Homo sapiens: one gene and its partners. The protein of the gene in region 2 purifies or fractionates together with the protein of the main gene of each other region. This does not show direct contact. Each region holds a gene or a part of one and is shown on either strand. Other genes may lie near its edges. The genes, in order: LANCL2, GMFG and PRUNE1.

What was found.
Region 1: the proteins of GMFG (region 2) and LANCL2 purify together in Homo sapiens (affinity purification with mass spectrometry; 2 studies listed by BioGRID and IntAct, with this or other methods). This does not show direct contact.
Region 3: the proteins of GMFG (region 2) and PRUNE1 purify together in Homo sapiens (affinity purification with mass spectrometry; 2 studies listed by BioGRID and IntAct, with this or other methods). This does not show direct contact.

What each region holds. Positions count from the first base shown.
Region 1 is NC_000007.14:55,360,576-55,368,372, reverse strand, and holds the start of LANCL2 (lanC-like protein 2), read right to left. Parts: upstream 3,037-7,797; 5' UTR 2,348-3,036; coding exon 2,144-2,347; intron 2,019-2,143; exon of another isoform or gene 1,634-2,018; intron 1-1,633. UniProt on the Homo sapiens protein: Necessary for abscisic acid (ABA) binding on the cell membrane and activation of the ABA signaling pathway in granulocytes.
Region 2 is NC_000019.10:39,327,771-39,333,066, forward strand, and holds the end of GMFG (glia maturation factor gamma), read right to left. Parts: intron 1,857-5,296; coding exon 1,774-1,856; intron 1,304-1,773; coding exon 1,230-1,303; intron 779-1,229; coding exon 707-778; 3' UTR 589-706; downstream 1-588.
Region 3 is NC_000001.11:151,025,364-151,032,474, forward strand, and holds part of PRUNE1 (exopolyphosphatase PRUNE1), read left to right. Parts: intron 1-151; coding exon 152-310; intron 311-1,869; coding exon 1,870-1,964; intron 1,965-3,422; coding exon 3,423-3,581; intron 3,582-7,111. UniProt on the Homo sapiens protein: Phosphodiesterase (PDE) that has higher activity toward cAMP than cGMP, as substrate. Plays a role in cell proliferation, migration and differentiation, and acts as a negative regulator of NME1. Plays a role in the regulation of neurogenesis.

The DNA of each region.
Region 1 (7,797 bases), on a different chromosome or scaffold from region 2:
TCCCCACCCCAACTTACATTTCATTGCAGAGATATCACAAGCCCCATTAGTTACTTGTAGTCTAATTTTCTTTTCAACATAAATCAGGTATATAACTGAGGTCAAAAATCACATTTATCCAGATACAAAGGCTAAAAAGAAAAATACCCAATTTCAAAACTTTGAGTTGAATTAGTGTTTATCTCCTGTGAGGCTGCAAATGAAACTCACCTGCTTCCCATGTCTCTAACATTATTTTTGTTATTCTCATGTCAAGAGTTCATTTCATTCATCTTTCACTAAGCATTGCTGTAACCTACCTACTCCAAGGATAGTACTGAGATGGCCACTGGTAATAAGAATGAATGATGCAGTTTTTTCAATGCTTGCCAGATTTTTATTTTTGTTATTAAAAAATGAAACACTAAGTCACAAATGAAACACATATTTGTATGTAAAAATAGAAGAAATCTAGAGAAAAACCAATATTGAATATGAATCTAAACCGTGTAACTTAAATCATCAAGGGGAAGAGATTAACATTTATTGAGGCCTTTCTTAAGGTACCACATCAGGCAGTTTGCTAGGCAATTTATATGCTTCATCTAATTCAGACACATCCCCATCAGTTAGGACTTGTTCCCACAGGTTTGCTTGCTTTTGGTTTTTGAGACTGCGTCTAGCTCTGTCGCCCAGGCTGGAGTGCAATGGCGCAATCTCCACTCACTGCAACCTCGACCTCCGAGGCTCAAGCGATTCTCATACCTCGGCCTCCTGAGTAGCTGAACAGGCGTCCACCACCACGCTCGGCTAATTTTTGTATTTTTCTTTTGTAGAGACGGTGTTTTGCCATGTTGGCCAGGCTGGTCTCGAACTGCTGGGCTCAAGCAATCAGCCCGCTTCGGCCTCCCAAAGTGCTGGGATTACTGGCGTGAGCCACCGCGCCCGGCCTGTTTCGAGTTTTTAACCACATTCAAGAAGAGAGAGGTTTACAGAAGTCACTTGCCTTAGATTCCATATTCAGACCAATGGCTCTTTCAAAATTACCTTCTTAGTTTTAGCCAAATATGAAATACATGGAGATCCAAGGAGGTGAAGTGGCCATTGGAACACGTACCTCAGTGGAAAAAGAAAACCTGGTAAAGGTACGGTTTTACCAAGCATGAAAACAGTTGTGCTGATATTCAATCTTCTGTTTTATTCCCACTTTTTGCCTCCCACGTTAGATTCTGTTCAGATAGCCCGTGAAGGGTGACAGGGTATGCCATCCCAAAAATATGTCTCTGGCATAAGGATTATTTTAAGCTAAAAGCACTTGAAAAACAGAAGAGTGCTCTAAACTGCCCCCTTTTCTTCATGAAACAAGAGAAAACTCCTGTAAAACATGGCCTCCCTACACCAGGAACAAAGAAACACTCGGCACCAGAGCCGAGCAAGGCGGAGATTTCTACCTAGACGTGGTTCAAGCAGTTCCATCTTCCATTAGCCTCCCCGCACACTTTACTCTCCCACAGCTGCCGCTCTTGGTTCTGCCTAGCACAAAAGTATTTGGGTTTTGCCATTTCTTTGTGTCTTTTTCACGTAAAACATATTCAAGAGATGTATGTTTTTCTGTTGTTAATCTGTTTTATGTCAATGTAACGCTCTGACCCACCTCGCGACACTAAGAAAGTCAAGTTTGGCCTCCCCTTACACCCGCTTCCCATTTCTGGGCACACAGACAGTACGGACAATGCTTCTTTGTCGGCGAGAGCCCAGGGACCAGATATGGCCAAGGAAATCCAGCCTCCAGGCCACTTCTGAGGAGCAGGTAGCCGGCGGAGCGCTCCGCCGCGCAGGGGCGGGAGGTGTCCGCGGGCCTCACGAGTGCACAAGCCCGCATTGCGAAGCGCCGCTCGGGCCAAGAAGGAAAGCGCACTGTCCGCGTATTTCAAAGGCGCGTTGGGGCCAGGAGGGCCGAACTGCTGGAACGTGGTTCATGCAGCTGAAGCCCACGGACCCTAAGCGCGGCTCATCGGGAAGGCCCGGAGACAGGTGCTAGGCGCTATCATCCCGCGCCCTCCCAAGCCCGGCGCGCGCCTGTGACGTCACGCCTGGCGGAAGGTGGACGCTACCACCGCCGCGCTCCCCCTCCGGCGCCTCTGCGGCCAGGCCGCCGACTCACCTTCCCGTCCTGATGAAAAGGGAGGCCGGGCTCATCCGTGGTCGCCGGGGGACGAACACAGCCTGTCTCTTCGGCCGCTCCGGAGGCGAGCAGCGCCCCGGCGGCGGCCTCGTAGTCCGGGAAGGGGTTGACGAACGCCCGTTCCTCCATTTCTGCCTCCCCTCCCAGGTGGAGCTTCAGCCTCTTTGACATGGTCTCGCCCATCTCCGCCGCGGTACGGCGCGCGGGCGGGGACAAACCTCCTGTCCCGGCGCTGCAGCTCGCCCCGCCGCCGCCTCCTCCGAGGGCCCGCGCAGAGAGCGTCCTCTAGGAGGAGCGAGGCCGCGCGCTGGCGGGAGGAGCGGGGCGTCTGAGCGTGCACTGCCTCGTCGCGGGCTGCTCGCACATCAGGCGGCCGCAGAGGCGGTGGGCGCTGTGCCTCTGCCCTGTTCCTGGCGCCTTTGCCCTGCTCCCGACGGAGAGGAGCGGGCTCGCGGGAGCGCCCAGCGGCTCACAGCCTGCTCGCGCCTCCTCGCACCTTCCCCGTGGCCCGCAGAGCCCGTCCGCGGCGACGCGCACGGCCGGGGCTGGAGTCCCGGGGTGGGGATCGCTGCGCCCGGCCAGCCCCCTCCGCGATTTCCAAAGAAAACCGAACGCCCGCTAGGGCCACGCTCCCGCGGGGAAAACCTGTAGAGAAGAGGTCGCTGTCACTCAAGGTGTGTGCGCGTCGCCGACCGGGGCGAGCTCAGCCCCTGGCGCGCCGTCGTCAGCCTGCATTTCACCGGCCCCTGCTGCGCCAGCCCAAAGGAATAGCAGCAGTTCTTTGTTTGATATTAAGAAGAAAAAAAAAATCTCTTCTAAAGAACAGAATTTCAAAACAGTCTAAAACACTGCAAGGCTAGTCTCCGAGGGATGGGGGAGGGAGACAGTCCCTCCTATTCATCACTGTTGGAGGGGGGTGTCTGGGAGGAGGAGCCACAGGCCTTTTTTTTTTTCTTTTTATGTTTTATGTTCACTCCCTTTGTTTTGAATAAATGGACATCTTTGATACCGGGACATAAAATGAAAGCATACTTAATTATCCAAACATTTTATCGACCAGAAAGAGTCCTCCAGTGTTAATTGGCAAAGATCATAGTATGTATTATAAAAAGGACACAAGCAACCAGATCTTTACATTTATGTAATCGTGATGTGGTTTACTTCAGTCTTCATTGGTTCTCTTTATTTTTATTTGTTTGGACCAAATACGTGTAATGATTTCTGCTCCTTGAGGAAAATGTCTTATTTCCGTTTTCTTCCGCTCAGTAAACGTTGATTGAGCACCAAATGGTACTAGGTGATGAAGAAATAAGAGATTAAAAAGATAGTTTTGGCTCTCTGGGGATTCCCAGTTATTGGGTGAGAAAAGCAAGGATTACAGCATAGCTGATGTAGGTGCTTTTCTGGAAGCAAGCAAAAATACACGTTAATGTAAAAAGTGACATGATGAAGAAAAACACAGTGCCGAGCACAGGGAAGGCTCGGTTCCTCCTGCCTCCGTGGCCTCGGTGGAATGATGTGGGAAAGTCTGGCTTCCCACTACCTCTTCTAGTGTCCCCCCAACCCCACAGGGCTGGACATGTGAAACACACCCCACCAAGAACATGACCATGGGAAGGTACAGTGTAGAAGAAAATCATTTTAAAGGGGGTACTCAGCATAACTATCTTCAAAGTTCAGGGAAACAGAACAGATACAACAGGATGAGTGTTATAGCAGCATCCCTTAGCTCCACTTTCCTGCTTTCCCCTTTCCTGGGGTCTTTTCTCCCACCAAATTTTCATACCTAGACGGTGTAGGAAAATCCACTCCAGGAACTACTGATGCCGACATGCTCTAGGAGCCATCCTTATCCCACCACAGGGACTTAACTAGACAAAATAACCCACGGTGATATTCCCCAAAGTCTGGGGAACTATCACGCCTTGGACAGGTACAGCAGAAACGTCCACTGCGGGCTTTGTTAGGCTAAGCCTAGTGAATTCTCAGCTCTCCCTACCCAGGAGGGAGGTGAAGATTGTCTCTTCTTCCTGCAGTCTGCTGGTGGATAACTGGCAACTGTTGGCAAGTACAGAAACCTGTCCTAAAGAAAACCAATATTTTCAAAAGCTGAAAAATCGAAACCCAATTTAAGGAGTCGGCATATTTTCCTAAATGCTCTCTTATCGGCAGATCCCCTGCCCTCCTGGACAGCTCACTGACACTATTTTATGGAGAAGTGGTAGGTTCCCTTTCTTCAGCCTCCTGTCCCCTGGGGGTTTTTTAATGCAGAGCACAGGGGATTCCCTTCTGCGGCCCTTTTACACCCAGGGCTATCTTCCCCCGTGGCCACTCTTGAGCTCTTGAGTAGTACAGAGACCTTGGTCAGTGCCTTGAAATTACAACTTTATTTTCCTTAGGACAAGCCAAATTCTTAGGACACCCTCCCCACTCTTCTGTGTAAGAGAAGGGCAAGAGGACATACATGCCGGCCCAAAGCACACCCAAGGAGTCGTGAGGGCCCCTGGCAACTGACCTTTCAAAGGAAGACATAGTCCAAGGACACGATGTGCGAGAGGGCGGCATTGTGGCACCACGTTGAGATCTGGGGGGGCACTGGGCGGAGCAGCACCTGGGGAAGCCGCCGGGTGCGGTGCTTGGGTCACGGCCCTCCGGGGAGGCCACCGGGTGCGGTGCGGGGCAGGGCCCTACGGGGTGGCCGGCGGGTGCAGAAGTTGCTACCAGGGGAGGGTGTGCTCATCCTTGAAGATCTGAGTCAAAATAGGCAGTGTCATCCTCTTCCATTCCCCAGCACCTAACGTGGCTGCCCCAAAAGCCGCTGAGCTTGAGCTCCCTTCTAAAGCCAAAGCAGGCAGCAAGGCGGAGAGGAACCCCGGAGGTGGGAGGTCACTGGGGGGCGGGGAGGGTGGTTTCGGGGCACAGGGCAGCGGTGACTGCCCGCAGGGGCAAGCCCGGGCTCCCCGCCTGCGGCGGCTCCCCACCAAGTGGGGCCTGAGACAGGAGGAGCTGAGGTGGGGGCGCCTCCCTGAGAAACGCCACTTCTTATCTGGAGCGCCCCAAAGGTGAGAGGAAGACGATGGAAAACCTGGGGCACGAGGGCTCTCACTGTGGGGTTCAGCCATCGCCGAGCCCTGAGGCCCCGCAGACAGCCCCGGCTCTCCTCTTTACCCCAGAGTCAGGTACCAGCCTCTGGCCCGGGAACCAAGCCTCAGGTGCTTGCAGGGCTAGAATGTGTGGTTCTGAGAACTGCGTGGTGCTGGGTCAGAACCACGTGGGGCCTGTATTATGTATTTCAAAACTTCACGCTTCCCTGCAGCCTCAACACGGAAAACAGGCAGTGAGCCCCCCTCTCCCCCACCCCGCCCAGGTGACCAGATGCCCCAGTGTGGTGAGCTGGCCCTGCCACAGTTCCCCTTCCTGCCCTCCCGGACTGTGACCTAGTGACAGAGATTCTTTGTTCTACCAAACTAGTCAGGTTCCTGAATCTCCTCCAAGGCCCATCTGCACACTTCCTTATAAAATCCAGTTTTAGCAAACAGCCTTGCTAAGTCACTTTAGGAAGAACCACCCCCTAATATGTGATCACCCCCATTATTTGACCAGGTTCCCTATCCCTCACTATCCCCTAGGTGATGTTGGATCAACCTGGCCTGTGTTCAGCAAGAAGCCTATTAGGTAAGATTAGTCAGTACCCACCTTCCCCTTCATGTTATCTCTTAGTAATTTTCCATCCAGTCACCCCCACCTTGCTTCTTGGCTATCCATTTCCACTTGTATTGGGAATTAAGCTCAATCTTTCTCCCACACTGCAAAATCCCATCGTGGTGGTCCCCATACCGTTAAGGTCTCAATAAAGTCAGCCTTACCCTGTGCTGTGAATGGTGTGAATGTTTTTCCTCTCTAAAAGTCATGTTGAGACTTAATCCCCAGTGTGACAGTAATCCATTCGTGGACGAAGGGATTAGCAGGTTGTCTCGGAGTGGGACTGTGGCTCTATATGAAGAAGAGAGACCTGAGCTGGCACACTCAACCCCTTACCATGGGGTGCTCTGTGCTGCCTGGAAACTCTGCAGAGACTCCCCATCAACAAGAAGGCCCTCGCCATGTGTGGCCCTTTGACCTTGGACTTCTCCAACTCCAAAACTGTAAAAAATAAATTCCCTTTCTTTATAAATTACCTAGTTTCAGGTATTATATTATAAGCAACAGAAAACAAATTAAGACCCTGTGCTTTAACAGTTGACATTGAATAATTTTCCTGTAATATTGAGACGCTCAACACACCGATGAAGCCCCGCCTGCTTTTTGCTTGTGTCCACCCTGACCCCCAGTGACAGCATTGGCCCACAGGTCCCCACTCCCTCTGCTCTCCTTCCACGTGGTGGAGCCCCTCCCTTTGCAGGGTGGCCCCTTCATGGTGCACAGTGACTGCCTCTCTAGGACCTGGAAGCACAGTCAACTTTTCTGTGCCTCCCCCGTGTCCCCATTGTGGCCGCACCTGACTGATCATGAAAGAATAGAAAACAGGGTCTCTGTCCACAGTACCACCTGTGGAAGGGTGGTAGCAGAAGAGAAGGTACTCATGCTGAGTGAAGGAACTGCTCTGCCAATAACTACATTTTCACCACCTCACTGCAGACCACATGTATGGGGACTCTGAGGGTTCTGGTGCTGCGGCCATCATGCCTGTCAGCATGACAGAGACAGTATGGCACCCTGAAGAGCAGTGGCAGCACTCAGGGAGTAGACCTGTTCATGAACATAAGACACATACCAGGACAACTCTTAAGATTTGGGAGGAGACTGGTTTGCAGGCAATGAGCCAGTGCAATATGAGTTACTATGCTACTGTTCACAGTATACACAGGTTAGTGGGATCTGCTTTACCTGGCACAAAGAGCAGCTGCAGCGGTCAGATCTTTCCTCTAAAACATCCAAAAGTATTTTTCCTTAACAAGTGCCATAAGGTACTGCCTCAGGTCTCAGGTTGCTGTTTCTGCCTTTACCTACATGATTATTTTCTTTTCTTTTCTTTTCTTTTGAGGTGGAGTCTCGCTCTGTTGCCCAGGCTGGAGTGCAGTGGCACGATCGCGGCTCACTGCAAGCTCCGTCTCCCAGGTTCACACCATTCTCCTGCCTCAACCTCCTGAGTAGCTGGGACTACAGGCTCCCACCACCACGCCCAGCTAATTTTTTTGTATTTTTAGTAGAGACGGGGTTTCACCATGTTAGCCAGGATGGTCTCGATCTCCTGACCTCGTGATCCACCCATCTCGGCCTCCCAAAGTGCTGGGATTACAGGCGTGAGCCACCGCGCCCCGCCTACGTGATTATTTTCTTACTTCTCCATGCAAAGAAATAGGCTTCTTTTGACACAGCCTGGACTTCATTTGATGCAGCTTCTCCTTTTATAAAGAATGTGCTGGCTAGCTACTTCACTATCTGGTGTCCCAAGCAGATAATAGCACAGAAACCATCCCCCTGCCTGGCATGTGTCCATCTCTCATGGGATGTTGGGCTTAGTGTGAGGCATTTTGACATTGTTGAAACTATGGGTAAGGCTGCCCTCTAAGAATGGGTGAGAATTCCTCTTAAGTGAGTGGATGTCAGTCTTACTCGTCTTCCAGCTGGAC
Region 2 (5,296 bases):
AAAGAAGAATCTTCAGATGGGGGCAAGTGTCCCTTCCCTGTCTCCTCAATCTCACACCCCTGGGAGTCCACCGAGGGCCCAGGATCGACTTCAGCTTCCCCAGCCCTGGGTGTTCAGGCCTACCTGACCGTACAAACCATCCACCCCCCAGCAGCTCCTGAGATCCTGAAGCAATTACGTTCAAACCTCTTCGGCCTTTAAATTCTTCCTATCTAAGGGCTCAGCTGAGAAAAGTCGCATTCGGTGATGCCTCCTACCCCCCAGAGGTGGGGAGTGGGGGAGGAAACGGGCACTTTGCCTCCTTTATTCTCAGGGGTCCTTGTTCCCCTTGGGAGTGACCGCTCTGTAGATCCAGATATTTCCCCAATACCTCCAGGAGACCCAGGCCTCGCCCATCCGTCCCCCACCCCCCAAGGAAATCCTTCAGGCCCTTCCCTTTCTTTCTAAGAAAGAGGTATCCTCCTTCCCTCCCGGGACCCAGCTCGCATTCCTCTAGGTCAGCCCGCCCCCTGCTGGCCCAAGCCTCGTACTGCAGGAACCGTCGGCTAGAGCCCAGAAGAGGCAGAAACTGAGTCCAAACTGAGGATCTCCGAGTTTTTGCATTTTAAAATTTATTTAAAGTCTTGGTTGTTCAGGTCCTAGGGGTTCCAAGTCCCCAGTCACCTTGAGGACTCAGACATCAGGAATTCAGTCCCCAGCCCAGAGATCAACGAAAGAAAGACAACTTTTCTTGGAGCCAGGCCTCAGTGAGGTCATCAGTGGTGCGGATTTCGAACACCTGGGCAGAGAGAGGTCTCGGCATTATGATCTACTCAAACACTGAGACAGTGGCTGGGCACGGTGGCTCACCTGTAAGAGAGCACTTTGGGAGGCTGAGGTGGGTGGATCACTTAAGGTCAGGAGTTCGAGACCAGCCTGGCCAATATGGTGAAACCCTGACTCTACTAAAAATACAAAAAGTAGCCAGGTGTGGTGGCGTGTGCCTGTCGTCCCACTACTTGGGAGGCTGAGGCAGGAGAATTGCTTGAACCCAGGAGGAGGAGGTTGCAGTGAGCCGAGGTTGTGCCACTGCACTCCAGCCTGGATGACAGAGCGAGACCCAGTTCTTTAAAAAAACAAAAACAAAAACAAAAACCACTGAGACAGTGAGGACTCTAGTCCCTCTTCCCTCAGACCCAGGACCCACACCACCTCTCCCTAACACTCTGGAGCCCCATCCCAGTCTGAACCTTTGTGAGCTCTGCTGTCTGCACCAGCCTGTTTTTACTCCCTGCATACATCATCTGTTGTTCCGGCTTGCAGCCTGCGTGGAAAAGAGGAGAAAGGCACATCAGTGGGGACCCAGGCGTGTTCTCTAAAGCTCTAGTAATGTCCTGAAGGCCCTGCAGCTTGCCAAGGGTCCTAGGAGCTCTTCTAAGGAGGTCCCTGCACTGTACTCAGTTTCTAGGTTGGCTTGGGGGCTTCAAGTTATTCTGAGGGTCTCTGGAGATGATTTAGGGGCCAGACGGGGATTTCTAGGTGAAAGGAAAAGGTGGGTTGGCTTAGGCCCCAGGACTGAGAACGGGTGGGCTCTTGGTGAATCTGAGCCCCCACCTCCACTTCACTGCCCTCCCACATCATGCGTGCGACACACACACATCCTCACCCAGTCACACACAGGCTGTCACATGCTCACACTCTTACACAAGTGCCTGCACACATTCGCATTTACACACAAACACACACACACAGAATCGAAGACCCTCTCCTGAGGACAGTAGAGCTGTGTCTCACCCACAGGGCTGGAGAAGATGAAACACAAAGGGTAGGACACTCGGCCATCGTCATGCACGTACTTGTAGCTGTAAACCACGAACCTACCGTGAAAGGGAATTGAAAATCAGGACTCTGGCCTGCAGCCCAGGCTTAACAGCCATTACCTGAGTCCACAGCCTTGAAATGTTGGCTGAGTCTGAGAACCCAGGGTTGATGTCTGGGACTCAGGGTACTGACCTCAAACACAACAAATGATTAAAAAATAATCATAGGGCCGGGCGCAGGACTCACACCTATAATCCCAGCACTTTGGGAGGCCGAGGCGGGTGGATCACCTGAGATCAGGAGTTCGAGACCAGCCTGGCCAACATGGTGAAACCTCGTCTCTACTAAAAATACAAAAATTAGCCTGGAGTAGTGGTGGGCGCCTGTAATCCCAGCTAGTCAGGAGGCTGAGGCAGGAGAATCGCTTGAACTCAGGAGGCAGAGGTTGCAGTGAGCCAAGATCACGCCATTGCACTCCAGCGTGGGTGACAAAAGTGGAACTCCATCTCAAATAATAATAATAATGATAGTGCTCATTTGACTCACAATTACTTTATAATATAGGTGCTATTAATATCCCCATCGTACAGATGAGAAAACTGAGGCCCAAAGTCACTTGCCTAAGGTTCTACAGATAGGGGAGAGATTTGAACCTGGGAAAGTGAATGCCAGCGTGTAAGTTCTCACCCCCTATGCAATTCTGTCCAGTGCACTTGAACCCCAGGTGCACTGTGACCAGTGATGGCTACAGAATCATCCAAGCCCGGTATAAAATGAAAATGTGGGGCATCTTGTTCAAGAAGCAGGAAAATTGTTTTCCTTTCTTTTGTAGTCTCTCTCTAGACTGATCATCGTCTTTTTTTTTTACTGTTATTAGAGACAGGGCCTCACTCTGTTGCCCAGGCTGGAGTGCAATGGTGCGATCCTAGCTCACTGCAGTCTTGAACTCCTGGGCTCAAGCAATCCTCCTATCTCAGCCTCCAGAGTAGCTGGGAGTATAGGTGCACACCACCATGCCCAGCTAATTTTTTTTTTTTTTTTTTTGAGACAGGGTCTCACTTTGTCACCCAGGTTGGAGTACAGGGACGTGGTCTCAGCTCATTGCAGCCTCGACCTCCCAGGTTCAGGTGATCCTCCTGCCTCAGCCCCCCAAGTAGCTGAGATTACAGGGGCGTGCCACCACATCCAGCTAATGTTTTTTGTGTTTTTTGCAGAGACAGAGTTTCACCATGTTGCCCAGGCTGGTCTCGAACTCCTGAGCTCAAGTGATCTGTCCACCTCAGCCTCCCAAAGTGCTGGGATTACAGGCATGAGCCACTGCGCCTGGCCTTTTTTTAAAAAATTTTAGTAGAAATGGGGGTCTTGTTATGTTGCCCAGGCTGGTCTTGAACTCCTGGCCACAAGCAGTACTCCCACCTCAGACTCCCAAAGTGCTGAGATTACAGGTGTGAGCCACTGCGCTCAGCCTGTCTTTTTTAGTTTGCTATTTAAAGTCGTGCTCCCTCGGGCATGAGGATATGCGCAGGCAGAGTGCAGATGCTCACAGGAACACCCTGTAACTTGTCAGGCAAGGGGTGCCTTCTGGACCCTGACCCTCCCTACACCAGCAGGAAACCCAAGGACAGCAGCGGTCACTGGGTGGGTGCAGAGAGTGGGTGGCTGAGAACCTGTTCAGGGAGGCAGCCAGGTGGTGGACTGCCTGTGAACCTAGCTCCAAACCCCAGCACATTTGTGTGAAGTCCATTGTCCCATCTGACTTCATACAAAACAGAAATTCAAAGATAAAACTATAAAGAAGGTGACCGTTAACCCCCATGTGTGAGGCCCCCTCCTGGGTGCGGGGCCCTGTGCAATTATCATATGCCCATGAAGCTGGTCCTTGTTGAGTCCTACAGCCTCTAATCCTAGAGACCCAAAATGAATTCAGTCAAGATGAAAAATCTTAGCAGACCAGTTTTCACAGAAATAGTCAAAGAGCTCTTCCACCAAAAAAAGCACCAGGCTCATGTGACTTCGCCCAGGATTCTACCTGATAGTTAAAAGTCGAGTCATTCCTTTAGCAGGGTGCAGTGGCAGTGCCTGTAGTCCCAGTTACTTGGGAGGCTGAGGCAGGAGGATGGCTTGAGCCCAGGAGTTAGAGGCTACAGTGAGCCAGGATCACAGCACTGCCCAATAGCCTGGGTGACACAGTGAGACCCTGTCTCTAAAAATTTTTTTAATAAAATAACAATAATAATAATTAATTTGTTTGCTACCTAAAGTGTTCCCAAACATTGAAAAAGAAGGAAAATTTCTTTTTTTGTTTTTTTGAGACAGGGTCTTGCTCTGTCACCCAGGCTGGAGTACAGGGGTGCTATCTTGGCTCACTTGCAGCCTCAGCTTCCTGAACTCAACTGACCCCCGACATCAGCCTCCCAAGTAGCTGGAACCACAGGCACATGCCACCATGCCTGGCTAATTTTTTTTTTTTTTAATAGAGACAAGGTCCTCCACCAGGCGCGGTGGCTCACGCCTGTAATCCCAGCACTTTGGGAGGCCGAAGCAGGGATCACCTGAGGTTAGGAGTTCGAGACCAGCCTGGCCAACATGTCTCTACTAAAAATACAAAAATTATCCAGACATGGTGGTGGGCCCCTGTAATCCCAGCTACTCAGGAGGCTGAGGCCAGAGAATCGCTTGAACCCAGGAGGCGGAGGTTGCAGTGAGTCAAGATCGCGCCACTGCACTCCAACCTGGGCAACAGAGCGAGACTCTGTCTCTAACAAAAAAAAAAAAAAAATAGAGACAAGGTCTTGCTATGTTGCCCAGGCTAGTCTCGAACTCCTGGCCTCAGGTGATCCTCCCGCCTCAGGCTCCCAAAGGGCTGAGATTACAGGTGGGAGTCATAGTACCTGGCCAAAATTTCATTTTTAAAAAATGATGCCAGCGTAATGTTGAAACAAAAACTCAACAAAGTTTGTACAAAAAAAAAAAAAAGACTCTTAAACCGGTATCATAAATAATCGGTATAAAATTCTGCAATAAAATATTGCTATACAAACAAAAAGTTCTAGAGTATGAACTCTTGGCCTCAAACACAGAGATTCTTTTTTTTTTTTTTTTTTTTGAGATAGAGTCTCGCTGTGTCACCCAGGCTGGAGTGCAGTGGTGTGATCTCAGCTCACTGCAGCCTCTGCCTGCCAGGTTCAAGCGATTCTCGTGCCTCAGCCTCCCAAGTAGCTGGGATTACAGTCACATGCCACCACGCCCAGTTAATTTTTGTATTTTTAGTAGAGACGGGATTTCACCATGTTGGTCAGGCTAGTCTTGAACTCCTGACCTCAAGTGATCCACCCTCCTTGACCTCCCAAAGTGCTGGGATTACAGGGATGAGCCACCTCACTCGGCCAAACACAGAGATTCAAAGTCCATGAATAGGGCTGGAACTCCAGCAGTCCCTTAGCCTATACCTCCAACATCACCCCTCCCCTCATGGCCTGATCCAACCCTTTCTTCC
Region 3 (7,111 bases), on a different chromosome or scaffold from region 2:
ACTGTCCATCCCAGTTTCTCATTTTGCTTTCAGAGATTTTGCTATACAAATCTCCTTGTGTGTGTCCATTTGGTGTGAAGGTTATATATGTTCTGGTGGTTGTGTGTGAAGGGTCACAGGATTCAAGTTCCACCATCTCCCTTCTCCACAGGAACCATCATCCTGGACTGTGTCAACATGGACCTTAAAATTGGAAAGGCAACCCCAAAGGACAGCAAATATGTGGAGAAACTAGAGGCCCTTTTCCCAGACCTACCCAAGAGAAATGATATATTTGATTCCCTACAAAAGGCAAAGTTTGATGTATCAGGTATGAAATGTTAGCTGACTTTTCTGCCTCCCAGATAAGAAAACAGAAAGGCAAGCCTTGTTCATTATATTATTTTTTTTTTTTTGAGACAGAGTCTTGCTCTGCCACCCAGGCTAGAGTGCAGTGGCACAATCTTGGCACACTGCAACCTCGACCTCCTGGGTTCAAGCGATTCTCCTGCCTCAGCCTCCCGAGTAGCTGGGATTACAGGCGCCCACCACCACGCCCAGCTAATTTTGGTATTTTTAGTAAAGATCGGGTTTCACCATGTTGACCAGGCTGGTCTTGAACTCTGAAGCTCAGGTGATCTGCCCGCCTGGGCCTCCCAAAGTGCTGGGATTACAGGCATGAGCCACCGCGCCTGGCCAATTATTTAAATTTTATACCAGAAAGAAATGAAGTACCATATTAGCCTAAGCATGAAATAATCAGTCATTTACTGGATTGTTCTATCCTGGCTCTTGGTTAGGATGAGGAGGAATGTATTAAGAGCCTCAGAAGGGCCAGACGCAGTGGCTCACGCCTGTAATCCCAACACTTTGGGAGGCCGAGGTGGGCAGATCACCTGAGGTCAGGAGTTCAAGACCAGCCTAGCTAACATGGTGAAACTCCGTTTCTACTAAAAATACGAAAAATTAGCTGAGCGTGGTGGTGTGTGCCTGTAATCCCATCTACTCAGGAGGCTGAGGCAGGAAAATCGCTTGAACCCGGGAAGTGGAGGTTGCAGTGAGCCGAGATTGCGCCATTGTACTCCAGCTTGGGCAACGACAGCGAAACTCCGTCTCAAAAAAAAACAAAAAGAGCCTCATAGGTTCCAGTCTATTCAGAGAATACAGGACATATATATAAAATATGCTGAGAGTATACTAAATTATCAGAGTGAAATCTATAGAATTGGTTAGGGAGGCAAAAGAAATATTTTGTGAGTAAACAAAAGATGAAGAGAACCCAAAAAAAACTGTATTCTTGTACTCAGCTACCACCTGTTGACATAAAAAGGAAGAAAGAAAGAAAGAACTCACATGTAAACAGTATAGGAAGAGGGAAAGATAAAAAGTAAAAGCCTCTGTTCTGGGTTTCATCCTTCTCTCCAAAGTTACTTGCTCTAAAGGTACCTATTGTCACCAGTTATTTAAGATGGCTTTTGATTATGTGATTACATTTTCTTTCTTTCTTTTTTTTTTTTTTTTTTGAGACAGAGTCCAGGTTCAAGTGATTCTCCTGCTTCAGCCTCCTGAGTAGCTGGGATTACAAGTGCCCGCCACCACACCCAGCTAATTCTTTGTATTTTTAGTAGAGACAGAGTTTCATCATGTTGACCAGGCTGGTCCCAAACTCCTGACCTCAGGTGATCCGCCCACCTCAGCCTCCCAAAGTGCTGGGATTACAGGCCTGAGTCACCGCGCCCGGCTATGATTACATTTTCAATTATCTCCCCCATTCATTGCCCCAAAGAGAGGCTGTTTTTCCTTCCTTGACCCATCTGGCTGTCCTTGCCTTCTTGGTCTTGGGACCCTGGCCTACCCTGTTTGACCCCTAGTCTCTCATCTGCTTTCTAGGACTGACCACTGAGCAGATGCTGAGAAAAGACCAGAAGACTATCTATAGACAAGGCGTCAAGGTGGCCATTAGTGCAATATATATGGATTTGGAGGTAAGAGCAAGTTGTGGCTGTGGGTGGGGAGAGAAAGCCTTTAGCTATGCATGTTATGCATGTGGCCTTGCACCTCATTCCTGGCTCACCTCCAAAATGTATCTTGTGTCTATCTTTGTCTCTACCTCCACTGTGACCACCAGAGTCCAGCATCTCTCACTGCACCGCTGTATTAGCCTCAGTACTGGTGTCCCTGCCTCTGCTTTTGCAGCCCTACAAACCATTCTCCCCGCAGCAGCCAGAGTGGTCTTTTTTAATTTTTTTTTTTTTTTTTTAAGGGAGTCATGCTTTGTTGCCAGGCTAGAGTACAGTGGTACCATCATGGCTCACTGCAGCCTCAACCTTCCAGGCTCAAGCAATCCTCCCACCTTAGCCTCTCGAGTAGCTGGGTCCACAGGTGCACACCACCACACCTAACTAGTGTGTGTGTGTGTGTGTGTGTGTGTGTGTGTGTGCGCGCGCGTGTATGTATGTGTCGATGGGGTCTCACTATGTTGCCCAGGCTGGTCTCAAACTCCTGGCCTCAAGCAGTTCTCCTTTTGGCCTCCGAAGTTCTGGGATTATAGGCGTGAGCCACTGTGCCCGGCCTCATTGTATTTTTAATAAAATCTAAAGGACTTACTGTGGTTTACAGCGCCATGCTTGATCTGGCCCTTGTCTTTTTCTCTGGCCTCATCTCATTCCAGCTCCACTCCTGTTCTACAGTACTGCAGCCACACTGGTTTCTTTTCTGTTCCTCAGAACCATTAAGCTCATTCCCAGCTGAGCTTTTTTCTTTGTAAAGCTGGCTCCTTCTTAACATTCAGGTACTCAGCTCAGATGTCTCTTGTTTTGGGAGGTTTTTCCTGACCACCCTAACTGAAGTACTATCTCCTATGCTCAAAAAACCTCTAGCAGTTATGTATGTATGTTTGTTTGTTTGTTTGTTTTGAGCCTGAGTCTTATTCTGTTGCCCAGGATGGAGTGGAATGGCATGATCTCAGCTCACTGCAACCTCTGCCTCCCGGGTTCAAGTAATTCTCCTGCCTCAGCCTCCCTAGTAGCTGGGATTACTGGTGCGTGCCGGCATGCCCAGCTAATTTTTTGTTTTGTTTTGTTTTGTTTTTGTTTTTTGAGACGGAGTTTCGCTCTTGTCCCCCAGGCTGGAGTGCAATGGCGCAATCTCAGCTCACTGCAACTTCCGCCTCCCTGGTTCAAGCGATTCTCCTGCCTCAGCCTCCTGAGTAGCTGGGATTACAGGCATATGCCCCCATGCCCGGCTAATTTTTGTATTTTTACCAGAGACAGGGTTTCACCATGTTGGCTAGGCTGGTCTCGAACTCCTGACCTCAAGTGATCACCTGCCTCGGCCTCCCAAAGTGCTAGGATTATAGGCGTAAGCGACCGTGCCCGGCCCAAGGATGTTTTATTGATGATGATGAGAAAGTCCTTCATCCCTCTCCGTTTCTTCCCTTTCAGGCCTTTCTGCAGAGGTCTAACCTCCTTGCAGATCTCCATGCTTTCTGCCAGGCTCACAGCTATGATGTCCTGGTTGCCATGACTATCTTTTTCAACACTCACAATGAGCCAGTGCGGCAGTTGGCTATTTTCTGTCCCCATGTGGCACTCCAAACAACGGTGAGTCTGTGTCCCTTCTCCAACCTAAGAGCCTTACAGAGTCTGCCTGTATGTACCTCTGTGCTCTACAGCTGTCCTATAAGGACCTCTCTTAGGTTCTTATATTAATGTACTTACATGAGGTCCCTTGACCTGTTTCTGGACCTGTTTCCTCCCCTTTCTGCTTTTTCCCATTCTCTCTCTATATGAATATCCTTTTTTTTTTTTTAATGAACATCCTTAATCATAGCATTGTTGAGAAAGGGGGAATTCCAAAGAGAACTAGAGATTCAATTCCTACTTTGAAAGAACGAAATCTAGTTAGAAGGAAATGTTATAAATCCGGAGTTAAAATTCCCTTCTTGAGCTAGGGACAGTGGCACGTGCCTGTAGTCCCAGCAACTCGGGAGGCTGATGCAGAAGGATTGCTTAAGCTGGAAAGTTTTTTTTTTTTTTTTTTTTTTGAGACAGTCTTGTGCTGTTGCCCAGGCTGGGGTGCAGTGGCACAATCTCGGCTCACTGCAAGCTCTGCCTCCTGGGTTAACGCCATTGTCCTGCCTCAGCCTCCCGAGTAGCTGGGACTACAGGCGCCCGCCACCACGCCCGGCTAATTTTTTGTATTTTTAGTAGAGACGGGGTTTCACCGTGTTAGCCAGGATAGTCTCGATCTCCTGACCTCGTGATCCGCCCGCCTTGGCCTCCCAAAGTGCTGGGATTACAGGCGTGAGCCACCGCGCCCAGCCGAGCTGGAAAGTTTGAGTCCAGCCTGGGCAAAGATAGCAAGACCTCATCTCTGTTGGGGAAAAAAAAAAACAAAAACTCTATTCTTGGTTTAATCATTAATTCCTCACCCCTGGAATTATGCTGTTGCCTTGAAAATTAGAAATACGAGAGACCTTTTCTGCTACTTACTATGCAGGGATTAATTATTCTGTATAGTGCAAACTCTGTAAAGAAGTGATCTAGATCCAGATTTGGCTATCTTTCCTACTTCCTCCCCCTTCTGTTCCTCTGCTGGTTACTGATTAGCCTAGGGAAGAATTTAAAAGTGGGCTTAAGGCTGGGTGCGGTGGCTCACACCTGTAATCCCAGCACTTTGGGAAGCTGAGGCGGGCAGATCACGAGAGCAAGAGATCAAGACCATCCTGGCCAACATGGTGAAACCCCATCTCTTTTAAAAATACGGAAATTAGCTGGGCGTGGTGGTGCGTGCCTATAGTCCCAGCTACTCAGGAGGCTGAGGCAGGAGAATCTCTTGAACCTCGGCAAGCAGAGGTTGCAGTGAGCCGAGATTGCGCCACTGTACTCCATCCTGCCAACAGAGCAAGACTCCGTCTCCAAAAAAAAAAAAAAAAAAGGTGGGCTTAAGGCAGTTCAGGGATTCTGAGGGTTGCCTAGGCTCTGTGAGGACTGCTAAAGACAGAATACAGCCAGATAATCCTTTGCTCTCATAGAAGGTATGTCTGTCCTTTCCCGCCCCCCTTTGCCTTTGCCTTCTCCCCAGGAAGCAAATCTGATTTCATTCAGTGTAAGGTAGTTCGTCATTATGAAAAGAACTGCAGTTTTGTCTGTTTGTTTGTTTTTTAAGATGGAGTCTCACTCTGTCGCCCAGGCTTGAGTACAGTGGTGTGATCTTGGCTCACTGCAACCGCCACCTCCCAGGTTCAGTCAGTTCTCCCACCTCAGCCTGTAGCTGGGACTACAGGCGCCTGCCACCATGCCTGACTAATTTTTGTATTTTTAGTAGAGATGGGGTTTCACCATGTTAGCCAGGCAGGTCTCGAACTCCTGACCTCAAGTGATCCACCTGCCTTGGCCTTCCGAAGTGCTGGAATTACAAGCCTGAGCCACTGCACCTGGCCAAGAACTGCAGTTTTTAAAGTCAGGTAGATGTGCTTTTCTGTTCTAGGTTTGCCTCTTACTCACTCTTTGAGCTAAGGCAAGTCAGTTGACTTCTGCATCTGGAAATGGCATAATAGTACCTACTGCTAATTCTGCTATGATCATTAAACGTAATATCATGTGTAAAGCACACTCCTGGAGCAGAGTAAGCACTTTGTAAATAGTGGCTCTTACTAATCCTGTCAGTAAGAAAAGGGTGCTTTGGCCATTAGAAGTACCTCTTCCACGTTCCTGAATCTTCTCCCCTCTGTGCTGCTCTTTTAAAGCTGTGTGGATTTCTAATGACTCTACCATTGTCTAGGTTGCCCCTATGCTTGGAAACAGGAGTCCTTCTCTCTCTGTTTTGTTTTTGTGTGTGTGTGTGTGTGTTTTTTTTTTTTTTTGAGATGTCTCACTCTGTTGACCAGGCTGGAGTGGTACAATGGCACTATCTCAGCTCACTGCAACCTCTGCCTCCCGGGTTCAAGCAATCCTCCCAGCCTCCCAAGTAGCTGCGGCTACAGGCACACCACCATGGCTAGCTAATTTTTTTTGTATTTTTTGTAGGGACAGAGTCTCGCTATGTTGCCCAGGCTGGTCTCGAACTCCTGGACTCAAGTGATCCACCAGCCTCAGCTTCCCAGAGTTCTGGAATTGCAGGTGTGGGCCACTATGCCCAGCCAGGAGTCCTTTTCTTACAGTCTACTCTACCATCTCCTCTCTTTCTCCTATGTTAGGGGTAGTATAATATATTGATTTAGAACACTGGCTTTGGTGACAGCTCTGGGCTCAGTGTCAGTTTTGCTTCATGCAAATTATGACCTTAGGCAAGTTACCTGATCATTGAAGCCTCAGTTTCCCTGCATGTAAGTGAGGGTAATAGTGATACCAGTCTTATTTTGTTCAATTCATTCTTTCTTCCTCCATCCCTCTTCTGGCCTCTAGATAAATTCTAGTTCCATCCTAGTTCAAGTTCTTGAGCACATTTATACACTTGGAAACGACACTAGATTAGAAGCTGGGGTTCCTCGGTTCTGGTTTAACTGCCATCATCTGCATGATTTTACTCACAACCATCTTACTTCGCTTTAGTTACTTTAATAATAAAATGAAATATACAATCTAAACTGTTTCCTCTGTTTTTAAAATACTGTGTATGGCTGGGTATGGTAGCTCATGCCTGTAATCCCAGAACTTTGGGAGGCTGAGCTGGGCAGATCACCTGAGCTCAGGAGTTTGAGACCAGCCTGGCCAATATGGCGAAACCCCGTCTCTACTAAAAATACAAAAATTAGCTGGGCATGATGGCAGGTGCCTGTAATCCCAGCTACTCAGGAGGCTGAAGCAAGAGAATTGCTTGAATCTGGGAGGCGAAGGTTGCAGTGAGCTAAGATCGTGCCACTGTACTCCAGCCTGGGTAACAGAGCAAGAATCCATTTCAAAAAAAAAAAAATTAAAGTAAAATAAAATAAATAAAACACTGTGTATGAATCCCAGCACTTTCGGAGGCTGAAGCAGGAGGATTGCTTGAGACCAGGATTTGGAGACCAGCCTGGGCAACATAGCAAGACCCCATCCCTAGTCTATTAAATAAAAAATACAAAATACTAAAATAAAATACTGTGGGCCAGGCTTGGTGGCTCACACCTGTAATCCTAGCACTTTGGGAG